Regions from separate parts of the Homo sapiens genome. Here region 2 is linked to region 1. A link means that fine-mapping ties the variant in region 1 to the expression of a gene that starts in the linked region. Tissue or cell type: whole blood. Region 1 holds a variant in brackets; the other region holds the start of a gene. All regions are shown on one strand. Distances are from middle to middle.

The links. PIP is the estimated chance that this variant, and not a neighbour inherited with it, causes the effect.
Region 2: TANC2 starts here. The variant in region 1 is fine-mapped to the expression of TANC2 in whole blood (TOPMed, PIP 0.97).

The regions. Positions count from the first base shown.
Region 1 is chr17:63,121,940-63,130,046 of GRCh38, reverse strand. The region is part of intron 4 of TANC2 (tetratricopeptide repeat, ankyrin repeat and coiled-coil containing 2); the gene reads right to left. Among named protein-coding and RNA genes, the nearest start is that of TANC2, 160 kb to the right of the region's middle. The variant T/C (reference allele first, on the strand shown) is at 3,144.
Region 2 is chr17:62,962,574-62,970,665 of GRCh38, reverse strand. It overlaps TANC2 (tetratricopeptide repeat, ankyrin repeat and coiled-coil containing 2), which reads right to left and starts at 4,431. Exons shown (of 28, transcript NM_001394998.1): 1 at 3,917-4,431. RefSeq lists a silencer at 4,355-4,544.

The DNA of each region.
Region 1 (8,107 bases):
TTTTTGATCTAATTGGACTCATCATTAAAACAGGTAAAATACCGTATATATGAAGCCAACTTTCTTGCTCATAGTTGTTCTTACGTGTTGTTGTCCATAAGTGTACTTTAGTAAATCTATCACATACTTCTATAAAAGTTTTCAAAATTATTACATTATTAATAATAAAGATCACTTAAAAGTTTTGAATGTCTATGAGCATACACAGATGATGTAATATTCAGTGCTCATCATATGCACACAATTTCTTATTTTATAACTGTATAGATATATAAGATTACTATAAAGAAAATATAAGGTGGTGATTATAATTTATTTTTCTAATCTAATTGGACTCATCATTACAACAGGTAAAATACTATAGATATGAAGCCAACTTTCTTGCTCATAGTTGTTCTCATGTACAGCTACTTATGTTCAGCCTCCCAAGTAGCTGGGACTACAGGTGTGCACCACCACACCCAGCTAATTTTTGTATTTTTAGTATTTTTAGTAGAGATGGGGTTTCATCATATTGGCCAGGCTGGTCTTAAACTCCTGACCTCAGGAGTTAAGCACATTGCTAAGCACTTGACATACACTGTTCATCTTCATAACATTCTTATGAGGTAGCTACTCTTGTTATGCACATTTTATAAGAGAGGAAATTGAAACTTGGAAAATGTGAATAACATGTAAAAAACTCACACAGCTAATAAGTGGTAACGCTGGAACCTGAACCTTGTATGTCTTACTACAAAGTCTAGGTACTGCTGGGCATGGTGCCTGTATTCCCAGCACTTTGGGAGGCCGAGGCAGGAGGTCTGCTTGGGCCCAGGAGTTTACCACCAGACGGGGCAGCACAGTGAGATCTCATCTCTACAAAAGTTAAAATTAAAAAAAAAATCAGCCGGACACATGGTGTAGCATCTGTAGTCCCAGCTATTTTGGAGGCTGAGGTGGGAGGATCCCTGGAGATTGTGGCTGCAGTGTGAGCCATCCAGCCTGGGTGACAGAGCGAGACCCTGGCTCAAAAAAACAAACAAAAAACCCCACAAAGTCTGGCTACTTAACTACTTCTATAAACCGTCCGTAAGTATGCAACTGAACCAAGAAGAACATAAGATTCTTTACACATAGCTCTCTAGTTTGAGAGGGCATTTAGTAGGCTCAACAGATAGGAATGACACGTTACTAAACACAAATTTCCACTCACAATTAAATTTTGACCTAAGTCATATACAGACAAGACCATAATTCACAGGTCTATTCCACAAATTCTCCTGAGAATAATTTGTGGTTTTTCTCAGGATTCTCCCAAACTTGGTCAGGGCTACCGAAAAATATGAAGGTAATATATACAGAAGTCCTCTTATCCTACACCGACAGGGACTAGTAGCGGATTGGTTTTTCTAAAATGTTGCAAATGAGCAAAGAAAAAGTTGGTACATGTATTAAACACTTTCCCTTAAAATATAAATGTACATTTATTAAACAAACTCTTGCTGTAAGGCCAAGGCCTTTTGTTTGAATATGAATTCCAACTTTTCTTTTTTGTGTAAACTGCACTAAAATGTATAATCTAGTCAATTTTTTCAAAATAAACCAAATCTTAGACAACCTAAGTAAAGACAGATTTTTAAAATACCTTCACCCAAATTCACTGAAAATTTATTTTTAATTTTTGGGGGTACGCAGTAGGCATATACATTTGTGGGGCGTATGAGTTATTTTGATACAGGCATATAATGTGTAATAATCACATCAGGATAAATGGGGTATCTATCACCTCAAGCATTTATCCTATGTGTTAGAAACAACCCAATTATGTTCTTTTAGTTATTTTAAAATGTACAATTATTATTGAGTAGTCATCCAGTTACAGCATTTTTTTAGCACCTTACTTTTATTGATATTGAGTTTTTCCAAAGCTTTTAACATAATTTTCCTAGAAACTCTTTTATAGGTGCTTTCTTTCTGTATTTGTATCTAACATATACATAATTTAATTATATTATCATAATAAGAAGTACAATGGGCATTAACTTAACTGCCTCTCATTAAGTAAGCACAGGCCACCACAGGAATAACAGAAGTACCCAGGTGCATTAGAAGGTAGCCTACTGGCCTCTAATATACATCTTGTCCTGACAACAGTCAGTAGGTGTCACAAAGGGAATGAAAACTTTAATCCTGCAAGTGATTAGGGGAAGGTCAGTTAAGAAATCTTCTCTTCTAACTGGTAGAGTTAGCTCACAGTGTGCAGGGCATGGTAATATGCAGAACGCAAATAAAATGAGAAAGGTCTGAGAAGTCTAACAACATTTTCATATGCCACCATGCTTGTAAGGCACTAATTGTCAATATTTAGATTTGGAAATAAAGCAGAGTATAAAATCCTGCCAGTTTCTTATGGTGACTAATGAGAGCCAGTGCCCATAACTGAAAGGACCATGATGGAGTAAGAAATTAAAGCATGAATAGATTTTCATAAAGAAATCATTTCTACTTTGTCACATTTCAGTCTCTAATCTATACAATTTTTGTGACATTTTACTAGCTATTTTCTCAATAATAAATGATTTGGGAAGTAAAGTGTCAAAAGCATAAGAGAAACATAAAACTATTTTGGACAGATGAACCTTGATAAGAAATGTCTTTTCAAAATCCAAGGCATAATCTGGAAAAATTATATAATTAGAATTAAAGTCAAATTAAAATTAAGTTAGAAGTAGAAGAGGTAGCTCATAGTTCAATGTCACATTGTATAAACAAATGAAATATCATTTAAAATAAGTATAAACTAGACTAGACATTAATATATCTACAAAAATGGTTCATTAAAGCAATGATTTATCCCCAGAATGGAGAAGGGTAGAAAATATTAGACATTTAGTACCATAAGAAGAATTCCTTATTGAACACAACAGAGAATACCCAGCGGTAATAACAAGAAAAAACAGCAAATTTTAATCGCAGTGTTGACAAGCTAAATCTGTCCATTTTTTGGTACTTAAAAATGAGAAACTTAGTCATAACTGCAGTATGTCCCCAGCCTCAGGCTTAGGTAAGCAGTACCTTATATATCAGCAGTACCTTTTACATTATAACCTTTCAGTAATAAGCTTTAAAAACAGGTCAAAATCAGCATGAAGAGAGCTATT[T/C]CTTTCTTTTCTAGGCACTATAATACTGTTAGAGTCCTAAGAATCAGTGGGGGGTGGGGAGGTAAAAGGAACGTGACTCATGTGTCATACTTACTTCTAGCCTCAGTTGTAAAGTGTTTACCATCACAAGTCTGATCAATAAATAAAACAGTGAGTCACAAATTTTCAAGATCTCACTTTAATAAAACCTTAGTGAGTCGGGCATGGTGGCTCATGCTTGTAATCCCAACACTTTGGGAGGCCGAGGCAGGCTGATCACCTGAGGCTAGGAATTCAAGACCAGCCTGGCCAACACAGTGAAACTCCATCTCTATTAAAAAATAAAAAAATCAGCCAGTGTGGTGGCATGCACCTGTAGTCCCAGCTACTTGGGAGGCTGAGGCAGGAGAATCGCTTGAACCCAGGAGGTGGAGGTTGCAAGTGAGCCGAGACTGCACCACTACACTCCAGCCTGGGCGACAGAAGAAGACTCCGTCAAAAAACAACAGCAGCAACAACTAAACCCCCCACTAAAAAAACCTTAGTGAGTAAAGGCTCTTAACATCATAATAGTGTTATCTGCTTTGGCCTGCTTAGCCGAAGGCATTCAAGCTAAGAATATTATTGAAGCTCTAGGTAAGTGCAGGATGTTTTATTGATTTATTCAGTAAATATTTATTGAACATCTACTATATGCCAGGCATTGTGCTAAAGACTGAGGATATAATAATAAAAAGGACAAATACTCTCTCTCCCTTTTAGGGAGACAAGACGTAAACCACACAAATACTAAATAATAACAGCAATAATTGAGCACTTATTGTGATCAAAACTGTTCAAAGTCATTCACTCATGTAATCCTCATAATAACCCTAGGAAGTAGTAGGTACTATTACTACCTGCTTTTTGCAGATGCGGAAACTGAGGGAGAGGTTAAGTTACTTGCCCAAGGACACAGAAGTAAGGCATATCAGTCAGAATTCAAATCCAGGCAGTCTGGCTCCAGAGTACACAAACTATGTAAGATAAGCTTACGCTACATTATATTGCTAACTAATTTAAAACTTAAATTTGTAATAAATGCTAAGATGAAAAGGCCTGCTGTGTACTGAATGTATAATTTTACCACAATTATATCAAAGCTTCTCATTATATCATAACAATGTGACAATATATTTATCATACTTTTTTGGTAAAGGGTTCTTTTAAATAAAACAAGGAAGGAGAAACTACATACTTATCAAGTGTTTTGGACTGAATATGAAACCAGTTCCCACAGGAAGTAATATAAACTCACAATGAAATACTCTGAACATTAATGGTTACAATATTACTGTTATCAGGAGAGGACACCACCAGTATCCATTTGACAGCAAGATGTTTTCTAAATCCAGGCATGTTTATATTGTCATATAAATTTAAGCCTTCTGATTCAAGTTGTAACTACTCTCTGCTCACTTAAAAAACTCAGCCTACCTAGTAAAGGTAAAAAACGGCTTCCCTTCTCAACAAAGAAAAAAAGGAAAAGTACACAGGACTTTAAAGAAAGGTATAGAGAGATACATAGGATCATGCAGTTGCTATTAAGTGACAGCATCATCATCAACTATCATTATTGGACAGTTACTATGTACTAGAGGCTGTTGTAAGCATTTTTCCTGTAAAAATTCCTTTAATTCTTACAAATCCTAAGGGAGTTGTTATACTCATTTCACAGATGAGGAAACTGAAGCACAGAGAAGTTATACAACTTGCCCAACGTCACACTGCTAGTAAGCGCAGGATCTGAACTATTACATCATATTGCAGGAGTTAAGGTAAAACAGTTAACTGCTTTAGGGATCCTTTCAGCTATCTTAACGAGAAATTTACTGGAGTAAGGATGTTGAATGGAGAAAGAGAAACATTTCATTTTTAAAAGTCTTAAAGAGTCCTATGTATCAGTGGTCCCCAATCTTTTGGGCACCAGAGACCCATTTTGCGGAAGACAATTTTTGTTGGGGGTGGGGATGGTTTTGAGATGTAACTGTTCCACCTCAGATCATCAGGCGTTAGAGTCTCATAAGGGGCAAGCAACCTAGATCCCTCAGATGTGCATTTCATAATAGGGTTCATGCTCCTGTGAGAATCTAGTGCCTCTGCTGATCTGACAGGAGGCGGAGCTCAAGCAGTAATGCTTGCTCGCCTGCAGGCTCACATCCTGCTGTGCCGCCCAGTTCCTAATAGGCCACGGACTGGTACTAGTCTGCAGCCTGAGCGTTGGGGATCCCTGCTACATGTGACTATATATCACAGACACCAAAAAGCAATTAGAACTCTAAGAAGTGTATTTGACTGTAAGTTTCTCATTAAATGCTTCCTTCTCCCACCGATTTTATGTAGCCTCTCTCTTTCTTTCTCCTCTTTAATGAAACAGAATACAAATATTTGCCAAATGTAGACCACTGCAGCTAAGAGTTTGGACTACAGTTCAGGAGAGCAAAAGGCAGAATCATATGTCAAGAAAATCATGATCCTAGTCACTCAAACGGTTCCAAGCCTCAGTTTCCAGCAAAAGTTACACCATCTTGGTTCCTTCAATATCTTTCATACTGCTCCTTATTCATCTCATTTGTTTTTTAAAGTGGGTTTTTCTCTTTTGGTCCCTTAGGTTGTATTTCTTAAGATTTACTTCTTGATCCCCGAGAACAGATACTGAAGTTAGAGAGAGGTCTAAGTTGGAGCTCTGATCTCTTATGCCTAAATTCTTCATGGTTAGCCTGATTAGGTCTTGTTTTCTTCATAAATAAGATTAGGGCCATAATAATTCAAAGTGCCAACGAAAAGACAAAATGAGTAAACATGAAAATTCCTCGTAAATTCTTATGAAATATTTACTTTCTACCTTTTCTATTTGTTCAATTCGCATCCTAAAGAGACCTTATGGCCGGGCGCTGTGGCTCATGCCTGTGATCCCAGCACTTTGGGAGGCCAAGGCGGGTGGATCACAAGGTCAGACATTCAAGACCAGCCTGGCCAAGATGGTGAAACCCCATCTCTACTAAAAATAAAAAAAATCAGCTGGGCGTGGTGGCAGGTACCTGTAATCCCAGCTACTCGGGAGGCTGAGGCAGAGAATTGCTTGAACTCAGGAGGCAGAGGTTGCAGTGAGCAGAGGTTGCAGTGAGCCAAGATAGTGTCACTGGACTCTAGCCTGGGTGACAGCGAGGCTCCATCTCAAAAAAAAAAAAAAAAAAAAAAAGATTTTACCTACTCTACAGTTTTAACTATACTCTCTACGGGTATAACTTCCAAATTTACAGCTTAAAACCTTACTTATTTTCAAAGTGCTGAAAACACATTTCCCCTTTTTCTTTTTTTTTTTTTGAGACAGAATCTCACCTTGTCGCCCAGGCTGGAGTGCAGTGGCGCAATCTCGGCTCACTGCAAGCTCCGCCTCCCGGGTTCAAGCAACTCTCCTGCCTCAGCCTCCCCAGCAGCTGGGACCACAGGCGCCAGCCATCACATCTGGCTAATTTTTTTTGTATTTTTAGTAGAGACAGGATTCCACTGCGCCAGCCAGTATGGTCTTGATCTCCTGACCTTGTGATCCGCCCGCCTCAGCCTCCCAAAGTGCTGGGATTACAGGCGTGAGCCACCGCGCCTGGCCCACATTTCCCCTCTTATATCGTCCTACCACCCTGAACTCAATGTCTATCAATCTCTTAAAATCAGCTATCTGTCTAAGCTTTTCCTATTAGCAAAGCCATCATTTTTCTTCTTAAAATTGTATAATCATCTTTGGCAGATCTTTCATATTCCTGTACTCTATAGCTGGCCAGTCACCAATCTGCTTATTCCTCCAAAATCTTTTTCTCTTTATACATTTTCCATGGCTACCATGTTAGGTTATCACTGCCCTAATGGCTTCGTCATTTTGGTCCCAGTTGTCTCTTCCAGAGCATCCTTCATGAAACCTCTGTTCCAGACAAACTGATTTATTTACCACTTGAATGCATTTTGTACACTTTTGCTTCTGAGATTTTACTTAAGTCACTTTACCATTTTACTTTCTAGTCTACATAATAAACAATATTTTCTCCAATTTAAAAAACACACTCATCTTTAAAATATTAAAGCAAAGTATAATTTATCTGGGGAATCTGAGTAAATTATGTTTCCATAATCTTCTGTTTTTGTTTTGTTTCTTTTTTGAGATACAGTCTCACTCTGTCGCCCAGGCTGGAGTACAGTGGTGTGATCTCGGCTCACTATAACCTCTACCTCCCAGGTTTCAAGTGATTCTTGTGCCACCCAAGTAGCTGGGATTACAGGCATGCACCACCATGCCTGGCTAAGTTTTGTATTTTTAGTAGAGACGGGGTTTCACCATGTTGACCAGGCTGGTCTCAAACTCCTGACCTCAAGTAATCCACCTGCCTTGGCTTCCCAAAGTGCTGGGATTACAGGCATGAGCCACTAGACCCAGCCATGTTTCCATATCTTCTGGAGTGCTAAGATGATTTCTTTCATACTTCATTTTGTGCAGTTAACCACTCTTCTTTCCTTCTAAATGACATAACTTTCTTTGGTCAGTTATTTCCTAAAGCATGCTCCTTGGAACACTTACTTGTTCCACATGGTTTTGCAGGGGCATGTAAGAAATAAAGTGTCTGCTGTCAAGTTTTAGAGATGCTAGATTAAACAATTAAAAAGTTCCCTTTATTGTAGGACTTCTCAGGCTTTAAAATGCTAAACCGTTTCTCTATCATCATTCTTCTCTAGTTCCGACATGAAATATTCCTTTCTCATCCCACTACAGCTTAACTCAACTTCAAACCACTATTCACTTTTTTGAACTGAGTAAGCCTTCCAGATTCAACCAGATTGAGTTTTTCATCCTTGCCTCTTGATTCTCAATCTCTTTCTCCAGGGAAATATGCACCCTCCCCTCCCCCTCTTCCCCCCTCCCCCCGCAAGAGATGAAGTCTCACTCTGTGGCCCAG
Region 2 (8,092 bases), 160 kb after region 1:
TTCTTTTATGCACACTTGTTCTACCATATATTCAATCAGTACCAACTACCCTAATAGTCCCCTTTGAAATGACTGGATTAGTATACTCCTTTCTAGGGTCTCCTTCCCTCTCCATTCAAAATAATTCATACTCACTTAAGAAATAAAGAGCAAAGGCAGTTATGGGGAAAAGAAGAAAAAACAGAGCTAGCGTGGGACAGTCAAGAATTCATGATGGAAGAGGGAAATAATCTATTAATGTTTAACAATGTTAGTAAAATCCTAATTTGCAAACCAAATTAAGTTTTACAAGTGAAGTATGCTAAAATGAACTACCAACCAGTAACCAATACAAATACAAAGCATAGTCTGAGTGTATGACAATTTATTAAATATATTAAATTACGTAAGCATATATGCTGAATAAGTTTTAGCCATAAGCAGTAGATTATATTGAATTCCCATATCAACAAATGTATATAAAAAGGGAAGTGTTTGGTTACATGAGATATGCAATTCGCAGCACAATAAGGAAAGGTTTCTGTTGAAAAAGAATGGCAGAAGCAATTTGGCTAAGAGAAGAAAATAACTATTATAATTGTGAAAGATGATGTTCCATTTCTTAAACTGGGTAAAAGGCATGTAAGTGTTGGCTGCATTGTGAAGTCTTTATATTTTACACATTTTTATAAATACTTTGTCATATGTGGTCAATATCTTATAAAACAATGTTTAAGTGTGAGAAAAATCTGAACAAACATTTGTTGACATTAGAGGTAAAATGTACATAGGCATCTAATCCATTTGTGCTAATTATGGTAGTTTTTAATATAAATGAAAAAGAGGTCATAAAAATATGAGTAGGAAGAAAAATATTGTAATTTATCCTTAATTTCCCTACAGAAAATAAGCAGTAAAGGTTTACTGGTGCTCTTAAAAAGGCTGTGTGTGTGTGTATGAATGTGTATTTATATACACACACACACACACACACTATATTAAACTACTTGAAATTAACTTTTTACCTCTGAAGTTCCCTTCAAACCAACCACCATCACAAATATTTCCTTAACCACATAAAAAGTACTAATACTCCTCTACGCATAATCCCAGAAATAAGTTAAAAAACAAATTCCTAAAGAGAAATGTTCACACTGCAAATAACTGTATCTTTTGTATATATGCAGACTTAACATCTATGTGAGTTGTCCAGGTTTATCCACATCTATTGTACTTGCTTTATGATGGGCACATGCATTTTAATTATGCCTTGCCAATACTACCTTGAGTGAGAGGGCAATATAGCATATTGATGAGGAGCACAGGTTCTGGAGCTAGCATTCCTAAATGGAAACTTAGCTCTTCTACTTCTCAGCTATATAGTATTGGGCAAGTTATTTAACCTCTCTGTGTTTCAGATTCTCATCTGTAAAACAGAAATAACAACACATACCTCATAGGGTGTTGGAACTGATTAAAACAACGTACAACGGGACTGGCAAAGAATAGGTGCTACATAAATGTGAGCTGTTACTACTAGTACAGCTGGCCCTTGAACAACATGGGCTTAAACTGTGCTGGTCTACTCCTATGCAGATTTTTTTCAAGCAATACAGTATTCATGGGATGCAAAAACCGAGTATATTGAGGGCCGACTTTTCCCTATACATGGTTCCATACACCAACTGCGGGATTTGAGCATGCAAGGATTTTGGCATATGTGGGGGTCCTGGAACCAATCCCCTGCATACAATAAGGGAAGAATGTAGTAGTAATTGTATTGCACCCTCTTCCTGAAAGTACCAAAAACATTCTTAAGCAATCTGAATTCCTAACATCAAATGCTACCTATATTTAAAATAGACACCAAATCTGAGGCCTGATTAACAGTAAGTTTAAAGCCCTTCAACTCTGAAGAAAATAGGTGATTCACAGATCTACATAATACTCTATCAAGAACAATCTGAGAGGACTGGTTCCCCGAGCGCAACTATCAATTTCTTCCCTTACACAAGGGGGCAGTGATAACAAGAAAAGAATCGGGCTCTGTAACACCTCTTCCTACAGACAGTAGGGGGTGGCAGTACATATGGCTTACAGTCAGAACAAAACAGGAAGACCCAACAGAATTCTCTTTATTCTCCTCTGGCCCTTTCCTCTGTTCTTCAGCCCCAACAGCTTCTCAAGGTAAGGGACATATCTACAGAAAAGACTAAAACCCAAAATCAATCACCAAGGAAAATCTATTTTTGTCTTTGAAGCAAATGATCCCTCAATGGCTGAATTTGGATCTAAGGGAAAGCCAATCAGTATGAATTTTCAGATTATCTGGCAAATTACTATAATGAGAACAGCATTCACACATGTAATTTAATTTCTTTACAAGAATTATAACATAAAACATTAAAATCTCATCAATAATTAAGTACATTCTAACGAACACATTTCCATATTTCTGCTTTTGTTATATAGTATATTCACACTCATTGTATGTATACATATAAGTTACATTAAATAGATCATGGAGTTGTCTTTTGTTACTTCTGAAATTCCAGCTATGTTCTGACAATCCTCTCGAAACAGATGTTCTTAAATGGAAGTCACAATGTTTTGCAGCATGTTGGTAATTTCTTATGTATGTATAATATACATGCACATATATCTATATAGAGACATAAATAAATATCTAGATACAGAGGGGAGCAAGAGAGAGGGAGAAAGAGAATGTTTAACGTTTTATTTCGTGCTCACATCCCTAAGAGGATCTACCTGGGAAATGCTGCAAGAAGCACTCCACTGACAGTATCCATGTTGTTGCTTTTTATGCCAATTTACTGTATTCTTTTTTTTTTTTATTTCACCATCCCAACACCAAGAACATACAAGAATATTTTAGTACTGCCGTTCTCTATAATTAACCATTGTGATAGATACTGGCTCCAACCCCTCAAAATGCCTGAAAATCTATCCCTTTTGTTCACCACACTGCTTTGTTTTCCTCATTACAGATATTTTCACCTGTGTAAAAATCAGGAAAAGGGCACATACGAAAAATACTTCCCTTTGCCTAATGATCTTTAACTCATAATTATGGTCAAGACGTTTGGGGTTTTGTTTGTTTCTTTTCCTGGAGAGGAGCAGAGAAGAGAGTGAAAGACACCCGAAACACCAAATCTTCTTCCTAATGTTAATTATCATTGTTTATGTTTTGTGAAGACCATTCTAAACATTCCACACCTGGAAATGAAGACTGGATACAATTGTACCAATGCTCTACACGCTGATGGCAAAACCTGGAATTATTTTAGCCCTATTTTTTCTTTCCAATCTCACAGCCAGACACAATTTGCTTTTTTTCTTTCACGTGGTTACTTTCTCTACCTCAAAAAAAATAGCTTATCATAGCTCCTCCCGATTTCCTATGGCAAAATATCTAGCAATGAGCCTTATTAATCTTTTATTATGCTACACCTCCTTTCCCAGAGGAATTATTAATATCGCTAATAACACTTCGACCATGAATTTCAACGCCACAGAGGCCAGCCCATCCTGTGCCTTACCTGGCACATTTCGCAACTACTTTTATGCTGCATTCTGGGGGCACATTTTGCAACTCGTTCTGCACCACATTCCCTGCCACGTTTAGCAATCCGCCTCGCATCTTATCCTTGGTCCCCGTCATCCAGAGACGCTCTAGGTACCAAATTCCATGACATCTTCGGTGACAGCCAAGTGGCGACCCCACACGCCTCTGAAGCCCGCCTTGGTGTCATATTCGGAGCCAGCCTTCCCCACGCCTTGGACACCGAGGCACTTCGCTGCCCATTTCGCCGTCTCCCCGCTCGCCCCCGCCCCTCTCCCCGGAGCCGAGGCTGTGGAGGCGAACGACCCTGTCACTGAAGCGACCTTTCCTCGCCCTGCTCCCCGGGCCCCTTACCTGCCGCTCTGAGGGGCTCTCTGCACCTCCGGGTCAAGCCCCAGTCCCCGGGGTCTCCTGTGAGGACCGCGCCGCCCGCCGGCGCCGCCCGCGATTCCCGGAGCACCTCGCAGTCCTCCAACGCCCCGCGGCGAGTCTGCACCCCGGAACGGCGCGGCGGGGCCTCGCAGCCGGCGAGCGCAGCCCGCGGCGGTGCTCCTGTCAGCGGCGGCTCGGGGGCCAGCTCTCGCCCCTCGGCTCGGCTCGGCGGCGGCGGGCGCCTCGCTCCGCCTAGCGCGCGGCACAGCCGGGAGGTGAGCGCGAGGGGGATGGGAATGGGGGCGGGGCCGCCCGAAGGAGGCGCGGAGGGCGGTGGCGGCGGGAGGGCAGCGCCAGCGGCCCTAGGCCGGGCGCTCGGAGCGCTCGCAGCTTCCCCCGCCGGGCGGGCGGCTCGCGCGAGGCGGCTGTGCCAGCGGGCCCCGCCGGAGCAGCGCGCCCAGCAACCCGCGCCCCGCCGGCCGCTCGCTAGCGCCGCCGCCGCGCTGGGGGCGTCGCACCCTCTGAGGCCGCCCGCAGCCCCGCCCCCTCCGGGCTGGGGTGGGGAGGGGCGCGAGCGCGGAGGGAGCGCGCGTGCGTGGGGGCGCGTGCGTGGTGGAGCGCGCGCGCCCCCGCCCCTTCCACAGTTTGGGGGTGGGGAACGGCTGGAAGAGGGAGTGGGGACGCAGCCCTCCTCCGCGCGGAGAGACGGGGCCCTGGCTCTGGCGCTCTGGGATGTCCTGGCATTTCTCGTATCCCCGGGGGGCTCGGACTTGTGGGTGGCATTTGGAGGGGCAGCAGGGAGGACGCTCGGTAACTGACAAGGCCCTACATAGTTGGGCTCCGCCCTCAGGGGTGATGTCACTCTCGAGGTGGCTGCTGCTGTCACGTGCGCCCATTTCAGGGCCTGTCCTCCTGCTTTGATGACCGGAATGCTCTCCTAGATCTCCCCCACTTCGGTCACCTCAGGCACATATCACTCTGAGAGTCCTCGAAGCCTACAAGTGTCAGTTATTCTTTCCCGGATTCTCAGTGGTAGTTTGTAGACGACTTCAAAAGGCCACGGTTGGCTGTGGGGAGAATCAGAATGAGAAAGAAAAACAAAACAACAGTGGGGTTTGTGGGGAGACCGAGACTGTTATTTAGAATAATGGCTGAAAATTCACCAACCACAGCTTGCAAACCTGAGGTAAAGTCGTGGCGCTGCTTCTGTCACTGCCAGGTTGACTAAGAAGTAGCGTGGTTTTAAGAGCTGGTCGACAAGGGCGGGAAAGCCACCACATTAATACCTCGTCGAACGATGTTAGGTCATATTTCACCCTCCACCTAGATCTTCTTCCCCTCTACTGTTTCCCTCCTATCATAAAACAGCAAGTCGGCTGTGGGAGGTATTTGGGACATAAACATCATCGCGTGCTGCAAGATGATGCGAAGCAATCACCGTTACCAACTCTGCCCGGCTCGCCTTCCCTTCCATAAACTGAGATGACCTTTCGTGGTCATCCAACTTCTTAATCAGATGACATGATTGGAAATAGATGCGCCAAATTACATCAATCAAGGAAGCTCTGTCTGTGGCGCTTCCAAGGTAGAGAGGTTTGTTTGATAACAGCACTTTAATCTGCCCCATCCTGTAGCACTTCATCCAGGAGTTTCTTCGATTTTCAAAAATTAGTATTAATTTCAGAACAATACAAGAAACTGGATATGAACATGTCCATCCAACAGCTCTTCTTTACAGTGAATGCTTGCAAAGTCAGAGCTAGAGCAGCTTTGAATAATACAGCTAACATGGCAAGGTGAAGGGCTGACATATGGAATCTTTTGGTGTTAACTCCAGAAAGTTAGATTAATCTAATGAAAACCCATCTACCTATGGTATTAGAGGCAAGGTAGTGATTACTTACAGGGGAATTGATTGAGAGGGGACAGGAGAGAGCCTTCTGGTTTGCTGGAAATATTCAATATCTTAATGGTTACCCGGGTGTATACATATGCAAAAAGATCTGTGCACTTCATGTCAGTTTTTTAAAATCACATACACACAAAGAAGCATTACAATGTCATCATCACTGCAGTCGGAAAACCTCAGTTTGAATCTCAGTGTCACCCAACACTTACCTGCTGTGTGACCTTGAACAGGTCTCCGGACCTTCCTTTCTTCATCTGTCTAACGTGGGTGATATTAATACTTACCTCACAGATGGATGTAAAGATGAAACAAAATTTTGGAAAATACTTAGCACAAATCCTGTTACACAATAAGGACTCAGGAAACAGGAGCTATTATGTTATCCTTCTTACACTTGAATTTACCCTATTTAATTCTCCTTCGGTCTTTTTTTTTTTTTTTTTTAAGATTACTTTCTATCTAAGCCTTTCCCTGCGAGTTCCACTGAGGCTAATAACATTCCTTCTCTGAGAAATAACAAAAGGCAGTCAGGGGTGTAATGTTGGTTTTCAAACTAGTTCAGGTGGCAGTCTCTAGAAATTATGGTGCTCAACGTGGAGCATCATGAAATACAGATAGATTTAACTCTGCCATATGGAATTGACACAATTTTACAAGCACTAAATCTGGCAATTTTATGGTTATGCAAATCTCCACATAATCACATAATAAAAAAATGGGGGCTTTTTGTTGTTGTTGTTGTTCTTTTTTTTTGAGATAGAGTCTCGACCTGTCACCCAGGCTGGAGTGCAGTGGTGCCATCTCGGCTCACTGCAACCTCCGCCTCCCGAGTTCAAGCGATTTTTGTGCCTCAGCCTCCTTCCCAAGTAGCTGGGATTACAAGCACACACCACCACCCCTGGCTAATTTTTGTATTTTAGGTACAGATGGGGTTTTGCCATGTTGACCAGGCTGGTCTCGAACTCTTGACCTCATGTGATCCACCCAACTTGGCCTCCAAAAGTGCCAGGATTACAGGCGTGAACCACTGTGTCCAGCCAAAAAATAATGTGTTTTTAAGAAATAATATGTCTGTGTTTTTCTCTTTAAATTTATTTGCAACTTTTTTACAAGGTAGGAAGTACCAAAAAATTAATAATAATTCACAAAATGAAAACCTTTAAACCCATTTTTCCTGGAAATTAGAAAAACACTGTAATTGTTCAATTTTAGCAACAGAGCTCTTTATTGGATTTACCCACAGTAAGATCTGATAGCTGTAACCCACATGGTCCCCTGCGCTGATAAAGTGAGTAACTCTGACTCACTGTCCTCACCATACTTCCAAAGATCAGTCACCACTTCTTTTAGCCAACCTTTCCCAAATCCCATTTTCATGTGGGCAGTGTCCAGGAATGAACTCACTGCTTCGCTCTTTTGATCATCCACCATCCTTCTATTCTGCCAATTCTCTTCCAGGTCGTTCTACTGTCCAGTCTTATAATTTGTTGCCACACTCTAACTTTGAGGAGGAAACAATATGTCCCTGACAGAGTTGTGAGTGGGGTATAGTAGGGACAGAGAGCAACATTGCAGCAAGAAGCCACCTCTGTTCTCAACTCCTCTCCCTGATTCCCTTTTCTGTCACTATTACCTGAAATCCTGAGAATACTAATTTTATTACCTACTAAAAATCCATTCTAGTAAAGATGTTAGTCTATAACTTAAATTTGGAAATGTAACGTATGCCGTGTAATAAGAACCTGCAAATAATTGTTCATAATGTAGCCCATCCTTGCCCTATACCTCCCAACATTTTAGCATCATCTGTATCATTCAAAATGCCCTTTCTTGCCCTTTCAACTCTGCACTATCACCCACCTCTGCATATGGTGTCTTCCCTGGCTACCTCTAAGTCTCTCTTTCTTTCTTTCTTTCTTTCTTTCTTTCTTTCTTTCTTTCTTTCTTTCTTTCTTTCCTTCTCTTCCTTCCTTTCTTTCTTTCCTTCTTTTTTGACACAGGGTCTCACCCTCATCACTCAGGCTGGAGTGCAGTGGCACCATCATGGCTCACTGCAGCCTCTATTTCTCAGACTCAGGTGACCTTTCCACATCAGCCCCCTGAGTAGCTGAGACCAAAGGTGCATGTCACCATGCCCAGCTAATTTTTTATATTGTTATAGAGATGGAGTCTCGCTATGTTGCCCAGGCTGGTCTCGAACTCCTGGGCTCAAGCAATCCGCCTGCCTCAGCCTCCCAAAGTGCTGGGAT